7 linked regions of the Homo sapiens genome follow. The protein of the gene in region 1 interacts with the protein of each later gene in a pairwise test. Each region holds a gene or a part of one and is shown in the gene's direction. Other genes may lie near its edges. The genes, in order: HSF4, TPM3, SOX10, ZMYND12, NUP62, YTHDF1 and PIH1D2.

Region 1 (4,695 bases):
GCGAATGTGAGCTGGAAGGCATGCTGCCACCTTATCTGTCCGCCTGCCTCGACCACATTCACAACCTACGGCTGGAATTTGAGCCATCGAGGAAGCCGAGCCGCCGGGCGGCCATCGAGCTGCTGATGGTTCTGGCGGGCCGTGCCCCGGGGCTGCGAGGCCTGCGCCTGGAGTGCCGCGGAGAAAAACCGCTCTTCGACGCGGGCCGCGACGTCCTGGAGGCTGTGCACGCTGTATGCGGGGCGGCCAGCCAGCTACGCCACCTCGACCTGCGGCGCTTGTCCTTCACACTGGACGACGCGCTGGTGCTGCAGGCGGCGCGCAGCTGTCCCGAGCTCCACAGCCTTTTTCTGGACAACAGTACCCTAGTGGGCAGCGTGGGTCCCGGCTCAGTGCTCGAGCTACTGGAGGCCTGCCCGCGCCTGCGCGCTCTCGGCCTGCACCTAGCCAGTTTGTCGCACGCCATCCTCGAAGCACTGGCGGCGCCAGACCGAGCGCCTTTCGCGCTCTTGGCTCTGCGGTGCGCGTGCCCCGAAGATGCACGCGCGTCCCCGCTGCCCAACGAAGCCTGGGTCGCGTTGCGCCGCCGCCACCCTGGGCTGGCAGTGGAGCTGGAGCTGGAGCCCGCGCTGCCCGCTGAGAGCGTGACGCGCGTCCTGCAGCCAGCCGTCCCCGTGGCTGCGCTGCGCCTCAACCTCTCAGGCGACACCGTAGGCCCAGTGCGCTTCGCAGCACACCACTACGCCGCAACCCTGTGCGCGCTCGAGGTGCGCGCAGCCGCTTCGGCCGAGCTGAACGCCGCGCTGGAGGAGCTGGCGGCGCGCTGCGCGGCCCTGCGCGAGGTGCATTGTTTCTGCGTGGTGAGCCACTCGGTGCTGGACGCCTTCCGCGCGCACTGCCCGCGCCTGCGCACCTATACCCTCAAGCTCACGCGCGAGCCGCATCCCTGGAGGCCTACGCTCGTGGCGTGATTGGGCGACTTCTCTCCCCCGTCCCCGTGGACGTAAGCGCTCTGAGAGGGAACGGGGGGGGTGTCCAGGCGCGCCCCGAGTGCTAGTGCCTTCTTTTGGGATTGTTGCCCCCCGGGTCTTTACCGAGTTGGGAACTGTGATGGCATCGGGACCAGTCCTGGGCGCCCTGAGACCACTCGCTGCTCTCACCCTCTGCAGACGCCCCACCCGCTCGGTCCTGGACACACTGCCCCCCTCTCTTGCCTCCACCCCTCTGCGGACTCTGCAGCTCCGCGGCCCCGGCGCAGGGAGAGGGAGGGCACGGGCGCGGGCCGGGCCTCAAGGGTGAGTGTGAAATAAACAAATCCTGCAGTGTTTCTGCGTCCTATTAAAGGCGGGGTCGGATCTGAAAGGGAAGGACAGGGAACGCGCGGGGTACCGGAGGAGCCATCCCGGCAGAGGTTGGGTTTCCTCAAGAGCCTCTGGACGACACAGCTGCGGGGGGTCAGGGTCGGGGCACTCACACCCTTGGAATGACTACGTCCCGGGGTTCGGCGGGAGGGGGCGTGCTTCCCTGCCCCCCCTTCCTATCTGCTTGCCCTGCCTGGGGCTTCACTGTGCCTCTGGCCATTACCTTCTAGGACTTGCCCAGCCCACACCAGGTCGCGCACCGGCGATTTCTCCTGTAGAACAAAGAAGGAAATAGAGGGACCGAGAGGGGTGGGACTCGAACCCAAGTCTCCCACTCATCTCACCCCACCCCACCCCACTCCACCCCACCCCACCCCTCCACTCCACTCCACTCCACACATCCCATCCAGCCAGCCTTTTCTGCCTGCTGGTGCCTCGGCCGCTGTCCGAGCCCCGCCCCGCGGGCTTGCACGTGGCCCCCGCCTGACCCGGCGCCCCGGGGCGGAGTAGGGCGGAGCGGGCGGCAAACGCAGCACTTTCCGCGGCTTTGACGAGCCCGCAGCGGCCGGGCCCGAGCGCAGAGCCGGGCCGAGACTGCACCATGCAGGAAGCGCCAGCTGCGCTGCCCACGGAGCCAGGCCCCAGCCCCGTGCCTGCCTTCCTCGGCAAGCTATGGGCGCTGGTGGGGGACCCAGGCACAGACCACCTGATCCGCTGGAGCCCGGTGAGGGCCGGGGCCCCTCGATTCCCCCTGTGGTCCCGGGGTCCCTCCACGTCAGTGAACACCCATGCCCGCCCAACCCCCTCCTGAGACTGGGCCGTGGATCCCCGGATTTGGCCATTCAGAGAAGTTCACCTTGGAGGGGGTGTGCGAGAGGGGGGTTTCCTCTGCGGCCGAAGAAGGGTTAGGAGCCTGCCTTCTGAAGACCTAGAGTCCGAGGGACCTTCGAGGCCATTTAGTTCCCACCCTACCCCATCCGACAGATGGGAAAACAGAGGCCGGGAGATGGGAAGGGCTGGTCTAGCTCAGGGTCACATTGCGGGGCTGGGAACCCCGTCAGCCTCTCCTTTCTGAGAACTGAGTATGGAGTCAGGGTCTGGCTGGGGGTAGGGACTCACTGTGGTCGCTCCAGGCTAGGCCTCGGAGCCCGTTCTGGCCTGGCCTCGACCCATATCCCCGTAAGCGGCAGGCCTGGACCCAAGAGTGAGCATGAGTGTGTGCGCGCGCTGGAGCGCAGGACTGGCCGTGAGCGGGCACCGCTCACCCTCCTGGTCTCCGCCCGCACGGTGGGCGGGCGGCGTTCTTGGTAGAGCGGGACCAGTTTCCTCGTAAGCGACCAGAGCCGTTTCGCCAAGGAAGTGCTGCCCCAGTATTTCAAGCATAGCAACATGGCGAGCTTCGTGCGCCAACTCAACATGTGTGAGTCCCTACGGCCGGGCGGGGAGCGGGGATGGGGGACTCGGTGCCGGGGATGGGGCGACCCACGCCCCCACGCCCCACTCCCCAGACGGTTTTCGGAAGGTGGTGAGCATCGAGCAGGGCGGCCTGCTTAGGCCGGAGCGCGACCACGTCGAGTTCCAGCACCCGAGCTTCGTGCGCGGCCGCGAGCAGCTACTGGAGCGCGTGCGGCGCAAGGTGGGGGCGGCCTGCGGGAATGAGCAAAGAGGAGGAGGGGTGCTGGGACTGCCTGCCTTGCTCCTGCGACCCAGTCCCGACGGTGCCTCCCGCCTGCAGGTGCCCGCGCTGCGCGGCGACGACGGCCGCTGGCGCCCGGAGGACCTGGGTCGACTACTGGGCGAGGTGCAGGCTTTGCGGGGAGTGCAGGAGAGCACCGAGGCGCGGCTGCGGGAGCTCAGGCAGTGCGGGGGCGGGCGGGGAAAGAGGGGACAGGGGTGGGGGGTTCGGGATGAGACCATAACTGGCCGGCCAGCAGTTCTGGGCAGCCCCTTCCTCTCTCCTGCCTTGGCGCCTCCATCTAGACTTATGGGCGATCTCTGGGATGGCCAGTCAGCGGGGTGGTCTCCTGGGTCCCCAGCCTCGCCATTCTGTGGGGGGTGGTGACTGGGCGAACTCTCAGATGCCTCAGCACCCTCCCACCCCTTCCTCAGGCAGAACGAGATCTTGTGGCGGGAGGTGGTGACACTTCGGCAGAGCCACGGTCAGCAGCACCGGGTCATTGGCAAGGTGTTCCTCTCCCCAAGCCTCGCTTCTCCCTCCCACTCCTCGACACCCCATTCCACCGCCCAGTCCCCCGGCGCCCCTGTTAAGCCTTCCTCCCTCACCTGGAAGTGCGGGGGTGGGGGGGCTGTGTCCAAAGTATGAATTAAACCTTTGCTTTCTCTTCAGCTGATCCAGTGTCTCTTTGGGCCACTTCAGGCGGGGCCGAGCAATGCAGGAGGCAAGAGAAAGCTGTGAGTGAGAAAGCCAAGAAGGCCCACACCCACTTCCAAGACCCCCCAGAAGTCCCCTTGCAAGGACCCCTTCTCCTCTGGAAACTCCTTCACCGGGAATCCTCATTCCTCCCCCTGCGCTACAGGCTTCCTCACCCCATCTAGGATCCACTTCCCCCCAACTCTGCCACCTGGTATCCCCACTCCCAGATCCTCCCATTCCAGGACCTTATTCCCAAATTCCTACCCCAGCAGCCCCTTCCCCCTCCGGCAAGGCTTCCCAACAGCTGAGACCCTGGGGCTCAAACCAGGTTCCCTCCCTCCCCTCTCTACCCACAAAGGGCCCCCATCTCTAGGGGGAGCCCCTTCCACCTCCAGCATGTGACTGACACCCTAGCAACAGGCCTCAGCTCTGCTGACTTGGCTGCTGGGGCCTGAGGGAGGGAGGGAAGTGCAGGCCGAGGTGCATGGGGGCTGACCCTGCCCCACCCCTGCCTGTGCCCTGATCGACCACACAGGTCCCTGATGCTGGATGAGGGGAGCTCATGCCCAACACCTGCCAAGTTCAACACCTGCCCTCTACCTGGTGCCCTTCTGCAGGACCCCTACTTCATCCAGTCGGTAGGTTTGTCTTCTTCCCCCTTCCCAAGGGCATGGCTGGGCTTATGGAGAGCCTGTTCCTTCTCCCCATCCCCTAAAAGGAAGAGAAGATGGAAGCCAGCCTTCCCCCCAACCAGACCCAGGCCCTCCAGCATGGACTGAGCCTCCTCCCTCAAACCTTCTCCCTTAGACCTGGCCCAGGTGGGTGTTGGTGGGGTTCTGGCTCTCCCTGTGCCTACAGGCCAAGGGCTGGGCCTAGCCTTCTACTTACAGCCTCTCCCAGAGACAAATTTGGGCCTTAGCCCTCACAGGGCCAGGGGCCCCATCATCTCTGACATCCCAG
Region 2 (4,176 bases), on another chromosome or scaffold:
CCCAAGGGGTAAGAGTGGGTGGGTGCTTCTCTGTTCGGGGAGGGGCAGTACTGAACCTTCTGTGAAATGGTGAGGGTTTTGGGGTGGGAACCGTCGGAAAGACCCCGGCCTGCCTGCTGGCAGCTTTTCCGCTCCCTCCTCCTGCTCAGGAAATGAGGCAGCAGTTGGCTGAGAGGAAGCGCGGTGCCCTCCCTCCCTGGAGGAGCTCGAGGCCACAGGACCGCCTCTCATCCTCTGGCCAGGGGCCCTTTCCTCTTACGGGGTGCTCTTGCAGCTGCTACACCCACTCTCTGAATCTACGTGAAACGGCAGGGGAGGGGATAGTACTTCTCTCAACGTTAGTGCAAATGTAGGAGCCAACCAAACTTGCCTGGCCCTACCCACAATGACCTGGAAGGCAGGAACTTCTGTCAGATTCAGGCCTTTATTGCTGAAGTGTGATCAGTGCAAGCCGAACTGGTTAAGAACATTTCTTCCGAGCAGAGCTGATAAGCGAGTGTATGGCAGAGAATCAGATGGTGTGCCAGTCTCAAGGTTTCTGATTGACTTGGGCAATTTGGTGGAGACAATAATGAATTCCAGGTGACTCTAGTGGAATATTTGTTCAACTGAAAGTGGAAACATAAAATGTTGGTGGAGTGAACAGTGATTCTAGTGATTTCTTTCTTCCTTTCTTTTTTTTGAGACAGAGTCTCACTCTGTCGCTCAGGCTGGAGTGCAATGGCATGATCTCGGCTCATTGCAACCTCCGCCTCCCGGGTTCAAGTGATTCTCCTGCCTCAGCCTCCTGAGTAGCTGGGATTACAGGTGCCCGCCACCAAGTCTGGCTAATTTTTTGTATTTTTGGTAGAGACGGGGTTTCGCCATGTTGGCCAGGCTGGTCTCGAACTCCTGACCTCAGGTGATCCACCCACCTCTGCCTCCCAAAGTGCTGGGATTACAGGTGTGATCCACCGTGCCCAGCCTATTCTAGTGATTTCTTTAAACGTCTTTCTGTTTAAAAGTGGCTGATTAGTTTTAGTGTAAGCCATAAGATTTTCCAAGGTCTAGGGTGCAGTCTAATAGATGGAGCTGATACGAGTTGAGGCTTTGTTTTGGAGGATCTTGAGAGAGTAAAGTAACTGTTGCTAAAATTCAAGATCCAGTGAAAGTACTCATGTGGTTTATTCTTTGTTCTTTGTTCTTTCCCTTGGTAAGTTTTTGTTTTTGTTTTTCTTTTTGGCTGCTCCTCTGGGAAATAACTGAGAATGTTTTTGGGAGGGGGAGGGGTGGATTTCAGAAAAGGATGGTAATTGGGGGACAGCTGCCCTCCAGTTTAAATACTTAAAGATTGTTGGAATACTCACTTATTTTTATAAGTGGTCATGGAGATGCTGGGATGGGAGCTTGTTGTCTTCCTCAGACACCTTTTTCTAGGTAGATTTTTTTCCTCTGTTCAGTTTGCCAACAACTTCTTATTATCTGTGCAAGTGAGATGGACTGGCTGGGTGACTCTTTATGGCCAGTGGCACTTTCTCATCTCCTTTGTTCTGGAGACCAGATAGCTTTAAAGGGGAAGACAGAGGAACTGGCCATGTGTTGAGCTGCAGAATCTTAGGCTCAGTATTTAAATATGGACATTCTAGGAGTAGTTCTAAGGTGGGTGATTCCTGCCTCCCATCCCCCCTCTTTTTTTTTTTAGATGGAGACTTGCTCTGTAGCCCAGCCTGGAATGCAGTTGCACGATCTCTGCTCACTGCAACCTCCACCTCCCAGGCTCAAGTGATTCTCCTGCCTTAGCCTCCTGAGTGGCTGGGATTACAGGCATCCACCACCACACTCGGCGATTTTTTTTTATTATTTTATTTTTTTATTTTTAGTAGAGATGGGGTTTCACCATGTTGGCCAGGCTGGTTTCAAACTCCTGACCTCAAGTGATCTGCCTGCCTCAGCCTCCCAAAGTGCTGAGATTACAGGCATGAGCCACTGCGCCTGTCCTGGGGTGATGTTTCTTAAGCTACTTTCACTCAGAGCCTGCCAAATTTGCTTATTGAGCTGAGGTCTAGTGAGGAAGTCCTCAGAATGGGGAAGTAGAGTTATAGTTAAATATTGATGAAATCATTTCTTCTACTCCCCAGCCTGAAGAAGCTTAATCTTTTGACTTTCTGCTGCTCTGCTGAACTTTGAACCCCTACTGAGGAGGAGACACCTGTGGGAAGGGAGGGGGGTTGCTTGGGCTACCTGTTATCCTCTTAAGGCATTCTGGAATGTGGGTTTTGCAGACTCCTCCCTCCTCTGGAGCGGGAAACTGCACTCTCTGATGGTATCTCATGCTGTTAGTGGGATTGTCACTTAATTATTTTCCTGGTTACTTTGTGTGAACATCCAAGCCACCCTTGTTGGGAAGCTAGATGAGTCTAAAACTGAGACACTGGTGTTCTAGGATCCATCTTTCTTTTCTGCTCTCGGCCTGGAAATTGGTCTTTTATAATGTAGCACCTTGTCAAATTTACTTTCAGTTCTGTATTTCCTTTTTACTTCTGTCTAAATGGAAACAGATGGCAACATAATGTTTAAATGCAGTCTTTTTCCTTATCTCTTTTTTTTTGTGGTAGTGGTGATAAAAATACATGTAAAATTTACCATTTTAACCATTTATAAATGTACAGTTCACCTTATCTGTTTTTAATAACTCTCTCCTAATTGTCCCTGATATTTTTCTCTTTTTAATTTTTTTCTAGTCTAAAAAACTTAAGAGGCTGGGTGCGGTGGCTCACACCTGTAATCCCAGCCCTTTGGGAGGCCTAGGCGGGTGGATCTGAGGTCCACCTGTGGATCTGATGAAACCCCATCTCTACTAAAAATACAAAAAATTAGCTGGGCATGGTGGCGCATGCCTGTAATCCCAGCTACTTGGGAGGCTGAGGCACAAGAATTGCTTCAACCCTGGAGGCGGAGGTGGCAGTGAACCAGGATTGGATCATGCCACTGTACTCCAGCCTGGGCGAGTATCGGCACTGGGGGAGTGAGGGGTCAACTGCGGGAGTGTAAGGTCAGCACACTACCTCTGCCTCAAAAAGAAAAAAAAAAGTAATAACAAAAACCTTAAGAGTACTACCGAGGGAGTGGGCTTTGATTCTGGCCTTAATCCTAAATTCCTAGTCTCTGGAGAGGTTAGAATGCTTGACTGTTGTGTGGTTCTCTTCTATTCGTGGGCCTGGTGGACTAAGCAACCTTTCTTTGGTTGCTTTGCTTTCCTTTCTCTTTCCCCAGTACTAGAACACACACTCACAGGGGAGAGGCAGATAGCCCTTTACCCCTGCTTAGGCTCCGCCTTTGTTTACTGTGGGGCAGATAGCTCTACTCCCTTCCAACTTGCCTCCCCTTTGGTGAAGTTTAAATTCCCCAAGGACACGGTATCTCCCTGGGTAATGCATTTGTGAGCACAGTGAACTCAAATAGTCCTTTACTCACAGGGCTCAAGCCTAACTTTCTGATACTCTTTCATTTGAATTTTATCTGTGGCTTTTATCTAATAAGAGAAACCCCAGTGTGGCAGAAAGCCAGATTTAGGCTAATCCCCTTCTGTCCTTGGCCCTGTTCTGCCTGAGAGTACCATCACACTGTCAGTTTCTTGCCTGGAGGGGTTGACATATTTGGGAAATCTCTTTGGAGTGGAGGATAGCCGAAGGTGTTGTCAGCCATCTGGTAATGTGACTGAGTTGCTGGGGCATTCTACTCTTTCCCCAATCCCTCACCCAGGATCTTTGCTTCCTGGGCAGTGGAGAATCCTATTATTACTTGAAGGGAAGAACCACAGAGTACTGTATATCCTCCACACTGGGCAGAGATAGGTCAGCTGAAACACCAAAACCGCATCTGGATGGGCATGCTAAAACCTAAGATGATTAGGAAAGTGCAGAGCTTAACGTTTCCCAGGGCCACAGGTAGCCTGGTCTGCAAAAAGTAGGCCTGTTCAATCTCTTGGTACCCATTGGTATTATTTGACCTGAAAGGGACAGGCACTGTGCATAGACTCATGAGGGAAAAGTCAGCTTGTCTTCCTTGTTCCTTTAAACAAAGTATCAGATCTTGATTCTGCAGGCTTTTGTTTCATTGTAAAGAGAACTGATCCTCTGTGCTAGGAGAAAAGAGAAAGGCAAGGTCCCATTCCCTACCACTCCACCCTGGAGGGGG
Region 3 (3,420 bases), on another chromosome or scaffold:
GGAGCAGGCCCAGGCAACCAGCAAAGGTGAAACAGAGCACTCAGGAGCCTGGGCGAGCGAGGCTCAGCAAGGAAGACAGTAGGCATGGGTGTGGAAGCGGGGCTGGCAGAGCGCAAAGGCTGGGCCAGACCACCTGGACAGCAGAGAAGCTGATGAGAGGAAGAACTTTCCACAGGAAAGGTTTTTTCAGAATGAGGCAGGCCTCCCCAGGACCCATCCCTAAGATTTGAGAATTTCATAAACAACTAGAGATCAATCTAAGACACCAGTATTTAAACAAATGCTGTGGGGCGCAGTGGCTCATGATGGTAATCCCAGCACTTTGGGAGGCCGAGGCAGGTGGATCACCTGAGGTCAGGAGTTCAAGACAACCCTGGCCAACATGGTGAAACCCCGTCTCTACTAAAAATACACAAATTAGCTGGGCATTGTGGTGGGCGCTTGTAATTCCAGCTACTCAGGAGGCTGAGGCAGGAGAATCATTTGAACCCAGGAGGCAGAGGTTGCAGTGAGCCGAGATGGCGCCACTGCACTCCAGTCTGGGCAACAAGAGCGAAACTCCATCTCAAAAAAAAAAAACAAAAAAAAACCCGACTCATGCTGCCAAAATGTGAAACTTACAAGGTTTTCCCAGAGGCACCCGCTGCCTGAAGGTGAACCATGGAAGTTCACGTGCGCCCACCTGCCTCTAACCTGCTTCCCCCTTGCGCTCTCTCTCTCTGTCTCCCTTCTACCCAGGCCAGAGCCATGGCCCACCCACCCCTCCAACCACCCCGAAGACAGAGCTGCAGTCGGGCAAGGCAGACCCGAAGCGGGACGGGCGCTCCATGGGGGAGGGCGGGAAGCCTCACATCGACTTCGGCAACGTGGACATTGGTGAGATCAGCCACGAGGTAATGTCCAACATGGAGACCTTTGATGTGGCTGAGTTGGACCAGTACCTGCCGCCCAATGGGCACCCAGGCCATGTGAGCAGCTACTCAGCAGCCGGCTATGGGCTGGGCAGTGCCCTGGCCGTGGCCAGTGGACACTCCGCCTGGATCTCCAAGCCACCAGGCGTGGCTCTGCCCACGGTCTCACCACCTGGTGTGGATGCCAAAGCCCAGGTGAAGACAGAGACCGCGGGGCCCCAGGGGCCCCCACACTACACCGACCAGCCATCCACCTCACAGATCGCCTACACCTCCCTCAGCCTGCCCCACTATGGCTCAGCCTTCCCCTCCATCTCCCGCCCCCAGTTTGACTACTCTGACCATCAGCCCTCAGGACCCTATTATGGCCACTCGGGCCAGGCCTCTGGCCTCTACTCGGCCTTCTCCTATATGGGGCCCTCGCAGCGGCCCCTCTACACGGCCATCTCTGACCCCAGCCCCTCAGGGCCCCAGTCCCACAGCCCCACACACTGGGAGCAGCCAGTATATACGACACTGTCCCGGCCCTAAAGGGGGCCCTGTCGCCACCACCCCCCGCCCAGCCCCTGCCCCCAGCCTGTGTGCCCTGTTCCTTGCCCACCTCAGGCCTGGTGGTGGCAGTGGAGGAGGCTGAGGAGGCTGAAGAGGCTGACAGGTCGGGGGGCTTTCTGTCTGGCTCACTGCCCTGATGACCCACCCGCCCCATCCAGGCTCCAGCAGCAAAGCCCCAGGAGAACAGGCTGGACAGAGGAGAAGGAGGTTGACTGTTGCACCCACACTGAAAGATGAGGGGCTGCACCTTCCCCCAGGAATGACCCTCTATCCCAGGACCTGAGAAGGGCCTGCTCACCCTCCTCGGGGAGGGGAAGCACCAGGGTTGGTGGCATCGGAGGCCTTACCACTCCTATGACTCCTGTTTTCTCTCTCACAGATAGTGAGGGTCTGACATGCCCATGCCACCTATGCCACAGTGCCTAAGGGCTAGGCCACCCAGAGACTGTGCCCGGAGCTGGCCGTGTCTCCCACTCAGGGGCTGAGAGTAGCTTTGAGGAGCCTCATTGGGGAGTGGGGGGTTCGAGGGACTTAGTGGAGTTCTCATCCCTTCAATGCCCCCTCCCTTTCTGAAGGCAGGAAGGAGTTGGCACAGAGGCCCCCTGATCCAATTCTGTGCCAATAACCTCATTCTTTGTCTGAGAAACAGCCCCCAGTCCTCCTCCACTACAACCTCCATGACCTTGAGACGCATCCCAGGAGGTGACGAGGCAGGGGCTCCAGGAAAGGAATCAGAGACAATTCACAGAGCCTCCCTCCCTGGGCTCCTTGCCAGCTCCCTCTTCCCTTACTAGGCTCTATGGCCCCTGCTCAGTCAGCCCCACTCCCTGGGCTTCCCAGAGAGTGACAGCTGCTCAGGCCCTAACCCTTGGCTCCAGGAGACACAGGGCCCAGCACCCAGGTTGCTGTCGGCAGGCTGAAGACACTAGAATCCTGACCTGTACATTCTGCCCTTGCCTCTTACCCCTTGCCTCCCAGTGGTATTTGAATAAAGTATGTAGCTATATCTGCCCCTATTTTCCTGTTCTGCAGCCCCCCAAATCCACATGTAACTCATTACTGTCTCCTGTTATTTATCTCAGTAGTCCCCTCTCCTAGCCACTCTAGCCCCTATTAACTCTGCATTAAGCATTCCACATAATAAAATTAAAGGTTCCGGTTACCTGCTTGGTGAGCCTGACCTGGCCTGTCTCTTCATCTCTTATCCCTGTACTGGTGCTTCCTCAAATGCTTTCTGGAAGTAGCTAGGAGTAGAATGCAAAGGATAGATCATCAAAGGTCTCTCTCTCCCACCTCCCTCCCTCTTTCCCCACCCCCTTCCCCTCCCCCCTCCTCTCTCTCTCCCCCCTCCCTTCTCTCCTCTCTTTCTCTCTCTCTCTCCCCCCTCCCCCTCTCCTTTCTCTCTCTCTCCCCCCTCCCACTCTCCTCTCTCTCTTTCTGTCTCTCTCCCTGCTAAGAAAGTGGGAACAATGGAGAGTGTTAGGACAGCTGGCATCCCAGTGGGGTCCATCTGAGCTCAGGGACTGAAGCCTCAGATGGGAACTTCTCCCCAGCCCGGCGGCTATGCCCCACACTGCAGGGGGGCCACTCACTCTTAACTGGCTCAGCTAGAACTCACTGCCTTGCAAGCAGCCCCTCTGCTCACCCAGCACTCAGCAGACGGGAGTTTGCAAAGAATTCAAGAGACAGGTATCTGAAGAGGAGGAGGTGGGCTGAGGGTGACACCGTGCTGCCTGCAGTCAGAGGCCTGTCCTTCAGGATGTGTGGATAGGCCCTGTGTTGCTGCATCCCCCCACTTGCCACCTCCCCCAGCACACACACAGCAGCCCACGCCAGGATCTAGCCAAGCCTTCACAGCAGGTGCCCATGTCCAAGTCCAGACCAAGGATGTCAGACAGTCTACTCCTTAAGCGCCTACTCCCTAAGAGCTCTTTCCTCAGCAGAAGTCCAAACTGCA
Region 4 (4,176 bases), on another chromosome or scaffold:
AACAATCTTAGTTAAGAGTCATTTGCTTCTTCAAATGTGAGAGGACTTCAGCCTAAACCTCATATTTTATAGACAAAGCCTGGAGGGAAGATGTGACTTGCCATGTTCACATGAGCCAGGATCAGGGACTAGGCCTCGTGCTCCTAATCTAGTAGTTTCCCATTTTAGTTTGCACTTTGACCTTCCATCAGGCAAAGTTACTTCCTTCTTCTTGTAGACTGCTTCCTCTTCATCTCTTTTCCTTTAATTCAGTGATGTAGGGTTACAACTAGAATAAAAGCATGCTTACATATGAACTAGGTCTGACAGGAAGGACACAGAGGAGCAGAGGGTTGGCTTATGAGGGGTTCGTGTCCTTACCTCTTAACCCTTTGTTGATGCCATTTCTGCTGCAGCACCTATCACACCAATGCTTCGCCCCCAGAGCACGCCTCCTACCCTGCAGCACACTGACGTAGTGGCTTTCTATTCTGTTCTGACAAATTTCCCCAGGAGTCAAGCAGGTAGGCAGGCCTCTGTATATATAAAGATGATATGTAATACACAAAAAGCTTTAAGTGTCAAGAGTATCTAAATATTAGCAATAAATGTGGCTTTCCTTTCTCTTACCTTCCACATTACTTAGTAACCGTGTGTTGTCCATTTTACTTCCTGTCTCTTTTTGATCTCCTCCTCTTTAGTTCACTGTCTTGTTTCAGGCTCTTAAGCGTGCTTGTCCGAACTATTTCAGACATCTTCCAGTGAATCTTCTACCTTTATTCCTCCCCTCTGGTCCCTCCTCCACATTGGTTCCAGAGGATCTTTCTAAATTTAAATCTGATTCTCTCGCCCTTTTTGAAAATCCTCTAGTTTTTATCCACATGCATCAAGTTCCTTGGTATAACTCACTAAGCCCTCCATGACCTGCCCCCTGCCTACCACCATAGCCTCATTTTCTGCCATTCTGTCTTTCACAATTTGTGCTCCAGCATCACAGGCCGATACAGTCCCTACACCCTCCATATTTGTAGGTTCTGCATCTGCCCATTCAAGCAACCATGGGTCAAAAATATTTTTAAAAATAATACAATGATTAAAAATGATACAAATAAAAACAATACGGCCGGGTGCGGTGGCTCACGCCTGTAATCCCAGCACTTTGGGAGGCCGAGGCGGGCGGATCACAAGGTCAGGAGATCGAGACCATCCCGGCTAAAACGGTGAAACCCCGTCTCTACTAAAAATACAAAAAATTAGCCGGGCGTAGTGGCGGGCGCCTGTAGTCCCAGCTACTTGGGAGGCTGAGGCAGGAGAATGGCGTGAACCTGGGAGGCGGAGCTTGCAGTGAGCCGAGATCCCGCCACTGCACTCCAGCCTGGGCGACAGAGCAAGACTCCGTCTCAAAAAAACAAAACAAAACAAAACAATACATGATGTTACTTGTGGGCTTATAAACAAAAAAAGAAAAAATGTAAACAAAAAAGACAAAAATGATATAGTAGAACAACTATTTACATAGCATTTACTTTGTATTAGGTATTATAAGTAATTTAGAGATGATTTAAAGCATAGGGAATGATGTGCATAGGTTATATGCAAATACTACACTACTTTATATTAGAGCCTTGAGCATCCTTATATTTAGGTATCTGATGGGGGTTCTGGAACCAGTTCCCTGCAGCTGTGACTCTATATAGTTCTATGAACATAACATATTATTTCATATTTCTATGACATTGCACATGCTGTTACTTCTGCCTGGGATGCTCTCCCTGCCTTATCTACCTGGAAAACTTCTATTCATCCTCAAAACCCAGCTCAGACTCTGCTTCAGTGTCCCTCTCCATCTCATCTATAGAATTAAACATTTCCTATCCTCTGACACTTCCAAAGCTTGTGTTGCTATTGCAATTATACTATATTGTAAATATATTTGTTTTCATGTTGCACTTTGATTCCCCATCACCCAACACAAGGCCTGGCACAGAAAGGGTATTAAATATGCATATATATATTTCACAATTGAGATATAATTCACATATCATAAAATTTACCCTTTTAAAGAACAATTAAGGCCAGACACAGTGTCTCACGCCTGTATTCCCAGCACTTTGGGAGGTCGAGGTGGGTGGATCACCTGATGTCAGGGGTTTGAGACCAGCCTGGCAAACATGGTGAAACCCTGTCTCTACTAAAAATACAAAATTAGTGGGGCGTGGTGGTGCATGCTTGCAGTCCCAGCTACTTGGAAGGCTGAGGCATGAGAATCACTTGAACCTGAAGGCAGAGGTTGTAGTGAGCCGAGATCGCGCCACTACACTCCAGTCTGGGCAACAAAGTGAGACTCCCTCAAAAAAACAACAACAACAACAAAAAAAGGACAATCCAGTGGTTGGTTTTAGCACATTCTGAAGGTTGTGCAACAATCACCATGATCTATTTCCACAACATTTTCATCACCCCTAAAAGAAAGCCTGTAATTGTCAGCAGTTACTCCCTCTTAGTGCCTCCCTTGCATTGGACCCCCTGTTAGTGCCTCCCTTGCATTGGACTCCCCCTGTCGCCTGGCCACCACTAGTCTACTTTCCGTCTCTATGGATTTGCCTATTCTGGACATTTCATATAAATGGAATCATACAATATGTGGCCTTTGGTGTCTGGTTTCTTTCACTTAGTATAGTGTTTTCAAAGTTCATCCACATTATAGCAGGTAGCACTACTTCATTCCTTCTTATGACTGAGTAATATTCCACTCATGGAGATGGAGATGGAGATGGAGATGGAGATGCCTCCTTTTGTTCATCCACTCATCAGCTGATGGACATTTACATTGTTTCTGTTTTTTTTTTTTTTACTCTTCCAAATAGGCTGCTGTGAACATTCCTGTATGAGTTTTTCTGTGTCAATAAATACTTGAGTCAATGAATACATGAGTGAATGGGTAATGACTCATATTTCCTCATGTGTTCTTTGGCCTGGATATGAATTATAACCTTCTTTTCTGCTTTTGGGCAGGTCTGGGCCGAATCGTTCAGGCTGAAGAATATCTATTCCAAGCCCAGTGGACAGTCCTCAAATCAACTGACTGTAGTAATGCCACCCACTCTTTACTGCATCGGAATCTGGGACTTCTCTATATAGCTAAGAAAAACTATGAAGAGGCCCGTTATCATCTGGCCAATGATGTAAACAAGCTAAGTTATAACACCTGTATATTTCCAAAATCTAAATTATAACACCTGTATATTTCCAAAATCTGTTTAATTTTTTTAAAACTGTGCATTTCTCTAAAACTTTCTGTTTACAACTGATTATTTGGTGGGATGTTAGCCATAACACAATTCTACCGACCCGAGTTCAAGCATTTCTACTTCATAGCTATTCAACCTTGGCCAGGTCACATATTCCTGAAGTTTCAGTTGCCCTGAAGAGTAAAGGGAGGCAAAACAGCATACTCGTTAAGAGAAGGGCTTTGCTGGCCGGGCATGGTGGCTCATGCCTGTAATCCCAGCACTTTGGGAGGCCAAGGTGGGTGGATCACGAGGTCAGGAGATTGAGACCGTCCTGGCCAACATGGTGAAACCCCGTCCCTACTAAAATACAAAAAATTAGCCAGGCGTGGTGGTGCATGCCTGTAGTCCGAGATACTCGGAAGGCTGAGGCAGGGGAATCACCTGAACCCGGGAGGTGGAGGTTGCAGTGAGCCGAGATCGCGCCACTGCACTCCAGCCTGGCGACAGAGCAAGACTTCGTCTCAAAAAAAAAAAAAGAGAGAGAGAGAAGGGCTTTGCTTCTAGTCACAGATCTGTTTCACTAGCCACATCGTCTTGGAAAATTTGTTTAACCTCTTTCATCACCTGCAAGACAGGAATAATAAAATAGTCTCTGTCTCACTGGGTCATTGCGAAGATTAATAATAGGACAATAAATGTATAGTACCTTGGCTATTATTTTAAAAAATAACAGTAATATCTCTACTTCAGAGTGTTGGTTATTAAATTTAAAAGAGCTAGATGTATAAGAAAGCACTTATCGATGATAAAACTCTGTACAAAGTTAGATGGGATGTTGAGGATGATAACTGAATTGTTCTTTCAAAATTTAAGGGGTTTCTATTAGGATTTCAGTACTGGAAAATATTACCAGAGAAAAGAGTTCCTGGGCGTGAAATCTGAGTTAGCGTAGAGTCAGACTGCA
Region 5 (4,176 bases), on another chromosome or scaffold:
TTTGAACAAAAGCAGATGGAATTAAGGGTAGACTGTTGGGCAGACTGCCAGTGGTAAGGACGCACAGACGTGCCCTATCTCCCCCGCCCCGCCGGTAGAATCTTTTCCTACGAAGATCTTCTAGATTGTACATGGGGACTGGGTTTGGTTTGGTTTGGTTTGGTTTTTTTGAGACAGAGTCTTGCTGTGTCGCCCAGGCTGGAGTGCAGTGGCATGATCTTGGCTCACTTCAACCTCCACTTCCCAGATTCAAGCAATTCTCCTGCCTCAGCCTTCCAAGTAGCTGGGATTACAGGCGCCCACCACCACGCCTGGCTAATTTTTGTATTTTTAGTAGAGACGGGGTTTTGCCATGTTGGCCAGGCTGGTCTTGAACTCCTGACTTCAGGTGATCCACCCACCTCGGCCTCCCAAAATGCTGGGATTTACAGGCATGAGCCACCACACCCAGTCTTAAGCAAGACCTAGCTTTTTTTTTTTTTTTTTTTTTTGAGACAGAGTCTCGCTCTGTTGCCCAGGCTGGAGTGCAGTGGCACCGTCACAGCTCACTGCAACCACCGCCTCCCAGGTTCAAGCCATTCTCCTGCTTCAGGCTCCAGAGTAGCTGGGATTACAGACATGCACCATCATGCCTGGCTAATTTTTATATTTTTAGTAGATACAGGGTTTCACCATGTTGGTCAGGCTGGTCTCGAACTCATGACCTCGTGATCTGCCTGCCTCAGCCTCCCAAAGTGCTGGGATTACAGGTGTGAGCCACCGTACCCAAGGGGGTTATTTTTTAAATAAAATTTTTTATTTTGGAATAATTGTAGATTGACTCAACAGAAAAGTTGCAAAGATAATACGGAGAATTTCTGTATGCCCCTCACTTGGTTTTTTCCATTAACATTTTACATTACTTTGCCACATTTGTCACAACCAAGGCAACATCAGTATGTTACCATTGACCAAATGCCATTCTTGATTCTGACCACACTTGATGCTGATTTTGGTAGTTGTTACTTAATGCCCTTTCTGCTCCTTCCGGATGCCTTCAGGATGCCACGTTATATTTAGGCATCATGGCTCCGCAGCCTCCTCTGGCCTGTGACTGGTTTTAGACTTTCCTTGTCCTTCATGACCTTGACAGTTTGGAAAAATGCTGGTTGGGTATTTTATGGAATGTGCTTCCATTTGGTTTTGTCTCAGACTGGGATTGCGGGATATTGAGAGGATGGCCAGGTAGGATGCTATTTTTTTTTTTTTTTGGCTTTTTTTAGTAGAGATGGGGGGGAGGGTCTTACTATGTTGCCCAGGCTGGTCTTGAATTCCTGATTCCTGGGCTCAAACGATCCTCCTGCCTCACCCTCCCAAAGTGTTAGGATTACAAGCCTGAGCCACTGTGCCCGGCCTGGGTTTTTTGTTTTGTTTTGTTTTTTAATTTTTTTGGTTTTTTGAGACGGAGTTTCACTCTTGTTGCCCAGGCTGGAGTGCAATGGTGCCATCTCGGCTCACCGCAACCTCTGCCTCCTGGGTTCAAGAGATTCTCCTGCCTCAGCCTCCCGAGTAGCTAGGATTACAGGCATGTGTCACCACACATGGCTAATTTTGTATTTTTAGTAGAGACGGGGTTTCTCCATGTTGGTCAGGCTGGTCTCGAACTCCCGAACTCAGGCGATCCACCCGCCTCAGCCTCCCAAAGTGCTGGTATTACAGGCGTGAACCACCGCGCCTGGCCCGGTGTGGGTAATTTTTAATAGCTTGGTCAGTAGGAGAATTGCATTGCTGGCTATGTGCGGTTTATGCTGGCTGCAGAGGTGTCTGGGCAGGGACTCTGCTTCCCCTCCCCACCGTTTTGCCGCCTTTTCTCTCTAGCTATTGGGTCCCACCCACTTCAGCCCAGCCAGACTTAGCAGCTGGACTCAGGGTGAGTGGGTGCCAGTTGGCACCCTTAGCTCTCCAGCCCCTCCCAGCCTGTTCTAGTTCATAGCCGGTCATCAGTGGTTGCCTGCGACCCTTCTCCCCAGATCTTCGAACCCTGAGTCCCCTCGTGTGCACATTCCTGACCCAGGCCTGTGGCCCCTTCAGGACTCATGTCCTGGCCTCCCCCAGCCTCGAGCTCCCCTTCAACTCCTGAGCTGGGGCTTGAAGCAAGGGTGGGGCTACTGGGGACTCTTTTTCGGTGCGGAGGGGCCTGGCTTGGGGAGTGAGGCGGTGGTTGCAGGCAGGTTGCATCAGCCCTGGCTGTTTGACGGGGACGGGGAGTTCGGGGATTCTCTGGGGACCCCAGCACACCTGGCAACCGCTCCCGGTTAGCAGAGCCTTGGATAAGGGAGAACCCCCGCACAGCAAGAGTAGGGGTGGTGTGGAGAGGGAGGGAGATCAGCCACCCGTGCAGGACCCTGAGAATCTGAGGCTCGGTGCCAAGAAGGGGCCTCAGATCACAGAGGCTTGTTAGCAGGAGTCAAGACTGAGGTCCCGAGAGGTAAGGGGGGTTGTGAAAATCACAGTGCCAGTTAGATGGGACCTCAGCCTCCACCATGCTGCACAGCTTCCAGGGCCCCGAGGCCCATGGTGTAGTCTCTGGGAGGTCTCCAAGCCCTGACCCTCACCTCAGGCCTGCTGCTGCTCACAGTTGCCAGACGCTATCGATTCCTGCCTGCACCTGCACCGTGCCATCGCCCTGCTATTGCCGCAACTCCTCACTGCTTTCCCAATCACGGTGGCCTCCTGGCATGATGGAAAAGGCTCCGAGTTTTGCATCAGACAGACCGGGGTTCTGGTCCTGAGCCCAGCACTCAGTTGTAGACTGGAGTGCAGGCAGGGCCCTCATCTGCCGAGCCTCGGCTGCCTTCCGCAGCGTGGGTCAGAGCATGGGCCCTAGAGCCAGCCTGCTGGGTTCACACCCCAACTCCACCACTTCTGTGACCCTCAGCAAGTGGCATCCTCTTTCTATGACTCAGTTTCCCCTCCGTAAAATGGGGATGAGATGGTCCATTGCAGACGGTGGTTTTGAGGATTAAATGTGTAAATGTGCGTGAAATACCTAGAGTGGGGCCTGGCATAGGGAAATGCCCTGTGAGCAGTAGTTCCTGCTCTGGGGCCTGGTGTGGGAGCGCTGTGGAGATGGCATCAGTGAAGCCGGCGGCTGCCAGAGCCCGGGTCTGTGTGTGATTCTCTCTGTTCTCGCCACGCCTGCTTCTGCTTTCAGATCCGCCGTGTGCAGATGTCTGCCTACGTGACTGCTCCCCCGAACGCTTCGAGGGCAAAGTCAGGGCCCTCCTCATTCCCAGAAACGTTCCCCACAACCCCCCGCCCTGTGCTGCTATTTCCGTAGGCATCAATACATTTTCTAATGAGTTGCTCAGCACAGAGGCCAGCGAATGTGATACTGAGGTCCCTGAGAGGAGCCAGGGAGGGTAACTGGGTCACGCAGGCCAGGGGTGCCGGGGTTGAAGGTGGGAGTCCTGGCAAACAAGGGCAGGTAGGCCAAGGCCAGCTCAGTTGGGGAGAGGATGACGCGGGGGCTGGGAGACAGCACAGGCTGCCACGTGGCCCACAGTCCTCCAGAGCCCCTTCCCTCCCTTGTGCCTGCCCTTGTCCCTTCAGTAGAAGCAGTCACAGCTCTTATGCAAAAAAAAAGGGACACAGCAAACTGATAACAACTGACACCAGTGTCCTAGAGCCCAGGATGCCATCACTCACCGCTTAGTGGTCTGGGACAAGATACTGTACCCCCCGACCTGTGGTCACCTCATCAGTAAAATGGGCACAATCATAGAACTACCTTGGGGCAGTGTGGAGGGGCAGGGGGTTGACATGGGAAGAGGCCTGGACCGGTGAACTGCTGACCACCTTGGGCCCTGTGTCAGGCCCAGAGGGAGGGGTGGCTCCCAGAAGCACCTGGGCCCCTGAAAGGCACCGGGGCCGCAGCAACACTGGCAGCGCTGGTGGTGCAAAGCTGCTGGTTTCACGGGAGAAGCTGGAAATCCAGTTTTTTTTTTTTCTGTGAGATCCAAGTTTTAAAGGTAGGCAAGTAATTCAGAAAAACCTGGAAAACCCCAGCAAACCACCAGTGTGGACAGGACTCAGGCTGCTGGCCCTCTGTGACTTCCCCTCCCCACAGCTGTCATCCTCTCTGTCCACAGCAGAGAGCAAAAGGAACCCAGCCCTCATTCCAAGAGTCTCCGAGGA
Region 6 (4,176 bases), on another chromosome or scaffold:
CTTCCTGCCTTATTTTTGATTTTTTGTAGAGATGGGGTCTCACTGTGTTGCCTGGGCTGTTCTCGAAATCCTGGGCTGAAGCAGTCCTCCTGCCTCGGCCTCCCAGAGGGCTGGGATTATAGGCATGAGCCACTGTGCCTGGCCGTGTCTTCATTTATAACAAAAAAGTTCAAAAAGTTAAAAAAAATTTAATAGAAAAAAGCTTATGGAATAAGGATATAACAAAAAAAATTTTTGTACAGCTATATGATATATTTGTGTTTACAAAAGAGTCAAAAACCTTAAAGCTTTTAAAAAAGTAGTTTGTAAAGTAAAAAAGCCATAGTAGGCTAGGGTTTATTATTGAAGAAAGGAAAATTTAAAAATTGAGTGTAGTGTTAAGTGGACGGTGTTTCTAAAGGTGACAGTGGTGTCCAGTGAGGGCCCAGGCCTTCACATTCTCTCCCTGACTCACCCAGTGCAACTCAGGCCTACCTGCTCCATTCACCGTAAGTGCTCTGTACAGGTGTCCCGTTCTTGATTTCTTATACCGTATTTTTACTGTACCTTTTCTGTGTTTAGATAATGTTTAGACACACAGATACTTATCATTGATGTACAGTTACTTCCATTATTCAGTACAGTTACACACTGTACAGGTTACGGCCTCAGTGTGTGGTAAGGATACTGCCTCCATGCTCACACGTCTCTGTTTGTGTGAGGACACTGATCACACAGTGACGAAATTGCTCATCAGGTTTTGGGTGGTTTTTTTTCACTGAACACAATGCCTCATCAGAGCATCTAGGACTTCTTTGAGAACAGCCTGGAGATGCTTGGCACAGGGCTTCCTGCTGTGCCTGGGCAGCTCTGGTGGGCCCGGGGTGACCTGAGGGCCAGCAGGGGAGTGTCAGTTTCTTGTGGCTGCATCTAAAAATATGGGCTTCCTTAAAATACCCAGTGGCAGCGCCTGCTAAGTAGGCATTTGCCATCACAACGGCTTCCCAGAAACGCAGCTGGAAGGACATAGTGGGATCTTAACGTGCTTCTTACTGGCAAGTTGCTGAAACAAATGCAGAAATTCTGTCAGAAACTGCTGTCTCTGCATATTGATGCCACCAGCTGAGGGGCTGAAATTGCAGCCTCAGAGGGACCAGTCCTGAAAACAGATCTGAAAAGTGAGCAGCCAAGTAAGTAAATTAGGGTTTTTCGGTTATTTTCCTCTAACATTTTCTCTGTGCTCCCTAAGGCTTCTCCTGAAGAACAGGTCATCCTGGTAGGCCTGTTCCCAGTCCTGGGTCAGAGCTGCTTCCCAGGAGCCATATCACTCCCTCACTTTTCAGCAGTACCCTTAATACTTTTCCATTTTACATAATTAATTATTTTGTTTTGTTTGTTTGTTTTTATTAAGCAAATGCTTCTCTCTGTTCCTCTTGGGCTTCTGAAGGGATCCTTTCTGCTTCTCCCTCTAGTCTCTCCTTTTGGTCATTCCAACTCCATCTCAGAAAAATGGATATAGGAAGTAAACTTAACCATTGAACTTCAACTTAAATGGTTCTGGTCATTCGGATGGAAGTTTCTTTTTTTTAATGTGGTTAAATTTGAGTAAATATGTAAAACTGCTCTTAGTTCTTTTTTGTTTGTTTTTGTTTTTTTTTTTTTGAGACGGAGTCTCACTCTGTCACCCAGGCTGGAGTGCAGTGGCGTGATCTTGGCTCATGGCAGCCTTCACCTCCCAGGTTCAAGCGATTCTCCTGCCTCAGGCTCCGGAGTAGCTGGGACTACAGGTGCCTGCCACCATACCCGGTTTAGTAGAGACGGGGTTTAACCATATTGATCAGACTAGTCTCGAACTCCTGACCTTGTGATTCACCTGCCTCGGCCTCCCAAAGTGCTGGGATTACAGGCCAGAGCCACTGTGCCCGGCTAAAAATGTGTTAGCCTTTCTTCGATGAGGTCGTCAGTTCTCCGCAGGGGCTGCAGTGAGGCGCCTAGCATGTGGAAGTGTTCAGCAGTCTTCTGTGGAGGCGGCTGCAGAGTAACAGGATCATGGTTTTGCTTGTATTGTCCTTAAAAGATCTGTTTATGCCACTCATTTACGAGGACCAAAATATGCTTGCTCAGAGGTAGTAATGTGTTAAGAACAAGCTTTGAATTTGTTCTTTTTTTTGGAGGGGGGTGGGGGGGACAGAGTCTTGCTCTGTCACCCAGGCTGGAGTGCAGTGGCTCGATCTCGGCTCACTGCAAGCTCCGCCTCCCGGGTTCACGCCATTCTCCTGCCTCAGCCTCCTGAGTAGCTGGGACTACAGGCACCCACCACCACGCCCGGCTAATTTTTTGTGTTTTTAGTAGAGAGGGGGGTTTTACAGTGTTAGCCAGGATGGTCTTGATCTCCTGACCTTGTGATCCGTCCACCTCAGCCTCCCAAAGTGCTGGGATTACAGGCATGAGTCACCGTGCCCGGGGTTAATGCAGCTGTATCCCTGAGAAGTAAACTTTCACACTCATAACTCAGTGCCCATGGAGCCGTGGCACTAAGGAATGTTGAGGGAGCAGCACAGCTCGCCTCCAGCACTTGGCAGCGAGTGAGCGCTGAACCTGTGCCTGGCTGTGCGGGAGACAAAGGGAGATCAAAGGCCCTGAAAGGAGGCTGCATGTGTTTTCCAGGCAGCCCGAACTGTGCGTTTCCAGTTGTCTCCCACGCACTGTGACCAGGACTGTGAATGGGACAGCTTCCCTCACCAGGGAAGGAGTGTGGGGCAGCAGCCTGACATGTGGCTCATAAAGAAGGCAGAGGACAGCATCTCCAGGTTTTCTTATGTACAGAATGACTGACTTCACATAGCTTTACAAATTAACCTGCTTCTTTACCTTCAGAGTTTTGGAGGAAAGATGGCAGATGTAATAGGAAATGGGCTGTCAGTGAGATTGAGGTAAAAATGGAAATCCGGCCCACAGAACCCCAGGTCACTGTATCCAGCCTGCCTGTGTGGCCGTGGAACCCGGTGAGCACAGAAAGTATCAGGAGGGTTTAGGGCTGCCAGCAGAGCTGATTAGCGTCACCGTCTTCTGTGGCTCAGGATGTGAATGGTGGTGATCTGGAGCTGAAGGATTTGCAGAGTACTGGCTAGAACTGCAGGCCCTGCACCTTGGGTAGAGGGAAGCTGGATGGGTCATTTATGGGCTCTCTGTCTGTGCAGCGTGTGTGCTAGGTGTGTCCATTTAATACTTAAAACGGATTTTCAGGAATGTTACATGCCTCATGTAATGTGGATTTTTTCATGTGGTAAGTGATGTCCTGTCTTAGTTAAGGCTTTAGGTGTAAGTCAGAAGTGTCCCTGGGCATCTGTTTCTGTGGCCTGACTCCTCTGGTTGGTGTTGGGGCCAAGTGGATTAGAATACCACACAGCCATCGAGGTCTTTTTTTCCCATCTGCTCTTTTTGCGTGGAAGGAAGATGTGTTGTGATTGCAGCGCTGCTGAGGAGCACGTGTCCAGCTAATGGGAGGAGGAGGGCTGGCTTCCCTGTGGGGGGGACTGTCCCCTTGCCTGCCGTCCTTGAAGGCACCTGCGGCCAGTGACTCGAGGAGCAAGTCCTGTGCACAGACCGCCCCCCTGATTCGCTCACCCCCCCAGTCTGGGCCTGTTGGCCAGGGCAGCACCCGAGGGAAAGGCTGCAGCAAAGGAGCCAGCATCATGGAAACTGTTTTGAGGGAGAATAAGCTCAGATTAATCTCATGTTTGTGGAACACTGATAGCATCCCACTTGTCTTCTTATACCCCCAGAATCTCAAATTTATATTACGGGGAAACAGCAGTTAGTGCATTTTAAAAGATGATTCTGGGGCCAGGCGCTGTGGCTCATGCCTGTAATTCCAGCACTTTGGGAGGCCGAGGCGGGTGGATCACCTGAGGTTGGGAGTTCGAGACCAGCCTGGCAAAGATGATGAAATCCTGTCTCTACTAAAAATACAAAAATTAACCGGGTGTGGTGGTGGGTGTCTGTAATCCCAGCTACTTGGGAGGCTGAGGCATGAGAATCGCTTGAACCTGGGAGGCGGAGGTTGCAGTGAGCTGAGATCGTGCCACTGCACTGCAGCCTGGGCGACAAAGTGAGACTTCGTCCCAAAAAAAAAAGGGGGGGGTTCTGGAATTGTCTGCTCACAAGTGGAGAAGTCAACAGGAAGAAAATTAGAAA
Region 7 (4,396 bases), on another chromosome or scaffold:
TCATGCAGCAGAAAAGGACCAAGTGAAAAAAAATCAGTTAATTCAGATGGCCATGAAATGCATTGAGGAGAAATTCCAGTTCACCCTCTCACACTCTTACCATATTACCAAATTTAGAATAAAAGGAAGCATTCAAAGAATGAAACAAAATCTGATGGGAATCCAAACTGATTCCATAGATTTAAGAGAAAAAATGAGAAGGGGTAAGTTGATGATTGTAAATGGAAAATTAAACTGCTTTAAGATGTTTTTGGATCCTGTATACATTTTGCAAACTAGAAATCTCTATTTTAAAAGGTGAAAAACTTAAGATAGAAAAATGCAAATATTAAATATTAGAAATATCATATCCTTGATTTTTAAATCCTGAAAAATTTTCAATCAAATTCTTTGGTTTAAGATTCTTTTGGCTTGATTCCCAAACTAATTTAACTGCAGCTTTATCTACCATCTCTACTAACACCACATATATTATAGCTCATAGTATTTTATGTTGTAGATTTATTTTTTATCTCCCCTCCACCCTTTTTTTCATAAAGAACTAACTCTTGGACAGATACGAAGCAGTACTATGAGCAATCCAGATCACTTTCCTCAACTGTTACTGCCAAAAGACCAAGTTTCAGGCAAAGCAGTGTGTCTGATAGAAGAGATTTCCAGTACTGAAATCCAGGTGGAGATGAAGATGCCAGCCTATGAACTAAAAATTGTGCATGATCACAGTGAGAAACCTCTGAAAATTGAGTTGAAAGTTGAATTACCTGGTATTAATTCTGTCTCTCTCTGTGACCTTAGTGTTTCTGAGGTAAGTTGAATAGATAACACTGTAAATTTGTATTGGCCAGCATTCACTAACATATATTATGCCACAGTAACAAACTACATAATTTCAGGGGCTTACAATGATTTGCTCAGGTTACCCGGTGAAGGAGCAATTCCCTTCTGAGATGTGCCATTCACATCTCAGCAAAGGGAAAATAGAATGATCAAACCATGCAGTGGATCGTAATACTTCTACTCAGACATGACACTTCATGATATCACTTCTACTCACGCTCCACTGGCCAAAGTAAGTCACAAGGCCAGTTCTACATCAGTAGGACTGAGAAGTGTATTCTCACAGTCACAGGAAGTCATATGGCAGGGTAAACGTACTATCCTCTTACAGAAGAGCAAATAGTTAGAGTCAGTCCTACAGTCTACCAGTCTACACTCTTGGTTGCAAATATTTGCTTCTTTCTGGAAGGAAAACACCTCCAATCCCAGTATCAGACTCCAAAGGACAGAATTTTGCTTTCTCTTCCTCTTGAACCATGGACTAAGACATGTAAAAAAAGTTATGTACTCCCTCAGTCCCATCTGTCATGCAATGTGGAATGGGGAGAAGATAACCGTAATTAACCATCTCAATTCAGAAATGGGAAAAATAAGAGGCACACTGCAGTTACTGGTGCACAGCAATTCTGAAATCCTAGTAGGCAGACATTGTGAGGGCTCCTTTTCTGGAGGTAGAGGATGTTCTTACTTAGGTTCCTTGAGAAAGTTCTGTAATTACCTAGCTCCCCAGTTCCATTTTTTTCCACGACCTTTAGCTTCAGTCTTCAGGAAGATGTTTTCTTTTTTTTTCCCTTTCCCACTATCCACCTTGGCCACATCTGAAGAGTATCGGAGAATGTGCCATTCTTATATGCTAAGTAGCCTCTTCAGCCTGGTTCCTGCTCATGGAATCTTGGGGCTCAAAGGATTGTTTTAAATTTTGAAGGCAGTTTCTTTTAGTCCAGGCTGGTAGCATTTTGATTCCAGTCAGTGATACCCATAATTCCTTTTTAGACATTGCCCATATTTCAAGACTTACCTGTCTCTTTAGACTTAATTGCTGTCATTTTAGCCAAATGTAAGGATTTACTGAAGTCCACCTTAGTACAGTCAGAGGTTTTGGCTGGGTACGGTGACTCATGCCTGTAATCCTAGGATTTTGGGAGGCCGAAGGGGGGTGGATTGCCTGAGCTCAGGGGTTCGAGACCAGCCTGGGCAACATGGTGAAACCCTATCTCTACTAAAATACAAAAAAAACATCAGCCGGGCGTGGTGGTGGGCACCTGTAGTCCCAGCTATTCAGGAGGCTGAGGCAGGAGAACTGCTTGAACCCGGGAGGCGGAAGTTGCAGTGAGCCAAGATCGAGCCACTGCACTCCAGCCTGGGCAACAGAGCGAGACTCTGTCTCCCCTCAAAAAAAAAAAAACAAAAAAAAAAAAAAACAAAAAAAATTCAGAGGTTTTAACAAAGAGCATAAAGATTTAATCTTTGCCTCTATATTGCCTTAATCAGCTTGGTTGATAAAAGTAATTTCTCAATTTTATCCCTTACTTGCTGAAAATAAAAATTAGTTCCACTTTTCAGTCATTGAGTCTTGGAATCTTGGGGCTCTATAAAGTCCTTTTTATTTATTTATTTATTTTGAGACAGTCTCACTCTATTGCCCAGGCTGGAGTGCAGTGGCACCATCTCAGCTTACTGCAACCTCTGCCTCCCAGGTTAAAGCGATTCTCCTGCCTCAGCCTCCTGAGTAGCTGGGATTACAGGCATGTGCCACCAAGCCTGGCTAATTTTTGTATTTTTAGTAGAGACGGGGTTTTGCCATGTTGCCCATGTTGGTCTCGAACTCCTGGCCTCAAGTGATCCACCTGCCCTCAGCCTCCCAAAGTGCTGGGATTACAGGTGTGAGCCACCGCACTCAGCCAATTCCCTTTTAATTTGACTTGCAAAATGGTCCATTCTAAGCTCATCTTTCTTGTAATATCCTGTTAAATGTAGTGAACAGAACCAACACATTACCATCTATTTTCCCACTTCTTCACCTAAAGCCACAAATCAACTAGGCACAGAGTATTTATCATCCAAATTACTGTGATAGTTTCACTAAAGGCTTCATCATTATGAAACATGGATCACTACCTTTCCAGGCTCCAATAAGTTTCCTTGCTGTTTGCTGGTCAGCCACATAATTTAGGATGGCAACACTCTACTGTGGTACTGTATCAGTTAACGTGTGATGTAGTGAGCAGCAGTAACCACCTTAAAATCTAAGGGATTTACAACAGTAATTTTTTGCTCATTCCAAGTCACATGGCAACAAATGGGATCTTTTTATGGCAAAGGAGTGAATAACTGGGAACAATAAGTTAGTATCCCAAATTTTAAGCAGGAAATAAATCTCTTGGTTTATTATTCTTAGGATGATTTATTGATTGAAGTATCTGAGAAGTACAGATTACATCTGAATCTTCCAAAACTTATTGATACTGAAATGACCACAGCAAAATTTATCAAAGAAAAATCCACGCTAATCATCACAATGCCTTTGGTGTGAAAGAAGAGCATCATATGTTTTGGGTTTTCAGTGCTAAAGTCATGTGAATTAAAGGACCTTCATTTTGGCTAAAGAGGTAGTAGTTTATCTTAAACACCAATTCCATTATTTTCTAAGTTCATTTTGACTGAGATTTTCTCTTCACCTGTTATGTCAAATATATATATATATATATATATATATATTTTTTTTTTTTTTTTTTTTTTTTGAGACGGAGTTTCGCTCTTGTTGCCCAGGCTGGAGTGCAGTGGCACGATCTCAGCTCACTGCAACCTCCGCCTCATGGGCTCAAGCGATTCTGCCTCAGCCTCCCGAGTAGCTGGGATTACAGGCATGCACCACCACGCCCAGCTATTTTTTTGTATTTTTAGTAGAGACGGGGTTTCACCATGTTGACTAGGCTGGTCTTGGACTCCTGACCTCAGGTGATCCACCTGCCTCGGCCTCCCAAAGTGCTGGGATTACAGGCATGAGACACCATGCCTGGCCATGTCTTATATTTTTTAACTCACTTCTTCTCAAATAAACATCAACCAGAATTAAAAACTATTGCTATGACACACTTGTTTTAAAAATATCTTAAGTAACTTATAATTTGGGAAAATTCTAATTGTTTCCAAGTAACAAGTGAGAACTCTTGGTTTACTGCTTGAAAAAGTCTCTAGTAAATTTTTCTATCAGGAAGAAATTCCAGACTGTGCAAGAAGTTTTTTATTATCAGGATGGGCCATATCAGTGAGTCTCCTCCAACAATAAAAATACAGGGTCAAATATAATATTCAAGCCTATTTAACCTCTGTACTTCACTGAGACTGAGTCTCGCTGTGTTGCCCAGGCTGGAGTGCAGTGGCACAATCTCGGCTCACTGCAACCTTCGCCTCCCAGGTTCAAGCGATCCTCCCGTCTCATCCTCCTTAGTAGCTGGGATCACAGGCATGTGCCACCACGCCTGGCTAGTTTTTGCATTTTTAGTAGAGAAAGGGTTTCACCATGTTGGCCAGGCTGGTCTTGAACTCCTGACCTCAA

The links.
Region 2: the proteins of HSF4 (region 1) and TPM3 interact in binary tests that used the Homo sapiens proteins (3 or more experiments, as listed by UniProt).
Region 3: the proteins of HSF4 (region 1) and SOX10 interact in binary tests that used the Homo sapiens proteins (3 or more experiments, as listed by UniProt).
Region 4: the proteins of HSF4 (region 1) and ZMYND12 interact in binary tests that used the Homo sapiens proteins (3 or more experiments, as listed by UniProt).
Region 5: the proteins of HSF4 (region 1) and NUP62 interact in binary tests that used the Homo sapiens proteins (3 or more experiments, as listed by UniProt).
Region 6: the proteins of HSF4 (region 1) and YTHDF1 interact in binary tests that used the Homo sapiens proteins (3 or more experiments, as listed by UniProt).
Region 7: the proteins of HSF4 (region 1) and PIH1D2 interact in binary tests that used the Homo sapiens proteins (3 or more experiments, as listed by UniProt).

Annotation. Positions count from the first base shown.
Region 1 is NC_000016.10:67,162,850-67,167,544, forward strand, and holds the start of HSF4 (heat shock factor protein 4), read left to right. Parts: upstream 1-1,895; 5' UTR 1,896-1,962; coding exon 1,963-2,085; intron 2,086-2,672; coding exon 2,673-2,781; intron 2,782-2,869; coding exon 2,870-2,997; intron 2,998-3,096; coding exon 3,097-3,221; intron 3,222-3,470; coding exon 3,471-3,546; intron 3,547-3,708; coding exon 3,709-3,773; intron 3,774-4,270; coding exon 4,271-4,373; intron 4,374-4,611; coding exon of another isoform or gene 4,612-4,625; coding exon 4,626-4,695. Other genes in the region: FBXL8 (F-box/LRR-repeat protein 8), read left to right, coding at 1-971. UniProt on the Homo sapiens protein: Heat-shock transcription factor that specifically binds heat shock promoter elements (HSE).
Region 2 is NC_000001.11:154,178,427-154,182,602, reverse strand, and holds part of TPM3 (tropomyosin alpha-3 chain), read left to right. Parts: intron 1-4,176. UniProt on the Homo sapiens protein: Binds to actin filaments in muscle and non-muscle cells. Plays a central role, in association with the troponin complex, in the calcium dependent regulation of vertebrate striated muscle contraction.
Region 3 is NC_000022.11:37,971,517-37,974,936, reverse strand, and holds the end of SOX10 (transcription factor SOX-10), read left to right. Parts: intron 1-738; coding exon 739-1,442; 3' UTR 1,443-2,625; downstream 2,626-3,420. UniProt on the Homo sapiens protein: Transcription factor that plays a central role in developing and mature glia.
Region 4 is NC_000001.11:42,438,844-42,443,019, reverse strand, and holds part of ZMYND12 (zinc finger MYND domain-containing protein 12), read left to right. Parts: intron 1-2,994; coding exon 2,995-3,164; intron 3,165-4,176. UniProt on the Homo sapiens protein: Required for sperm flagellum function and male fertility.
Region 5 is NC_000019.10:49,922,524-49,926,699, reverse strand, and holds part of NUP62 (nuclear pore glycoprotein p62), read left to right. Parts: intron 1-4,176. UniProt on the Homo sapiens protein: Essential component of the nuclear pore complex. The N-terminal is probably involved in nucleocytoplasmic transport.
Region 6 is NC_000020.11:63,205,456-63,209,631, reverse strand, and holds part of YTHDF1 (YTH domain-containing family protein 1), read left to right. Parts: intron 1-4,176.
Region 7 is NC_000011.10:112,066,845-112,071,240, reverse strand, and holds the end of PIH1D2 (PIH1 domain-containing protein 2), read left to right. Parts: coding exon 1-203; intron 204-539; coding exon 540-805; coding exon of another isoform or gene 806-814; intron 815-3,235; coding exon 3,236-3,370; 3' UTR 3,371-3,443; downstream 3,444-4,396.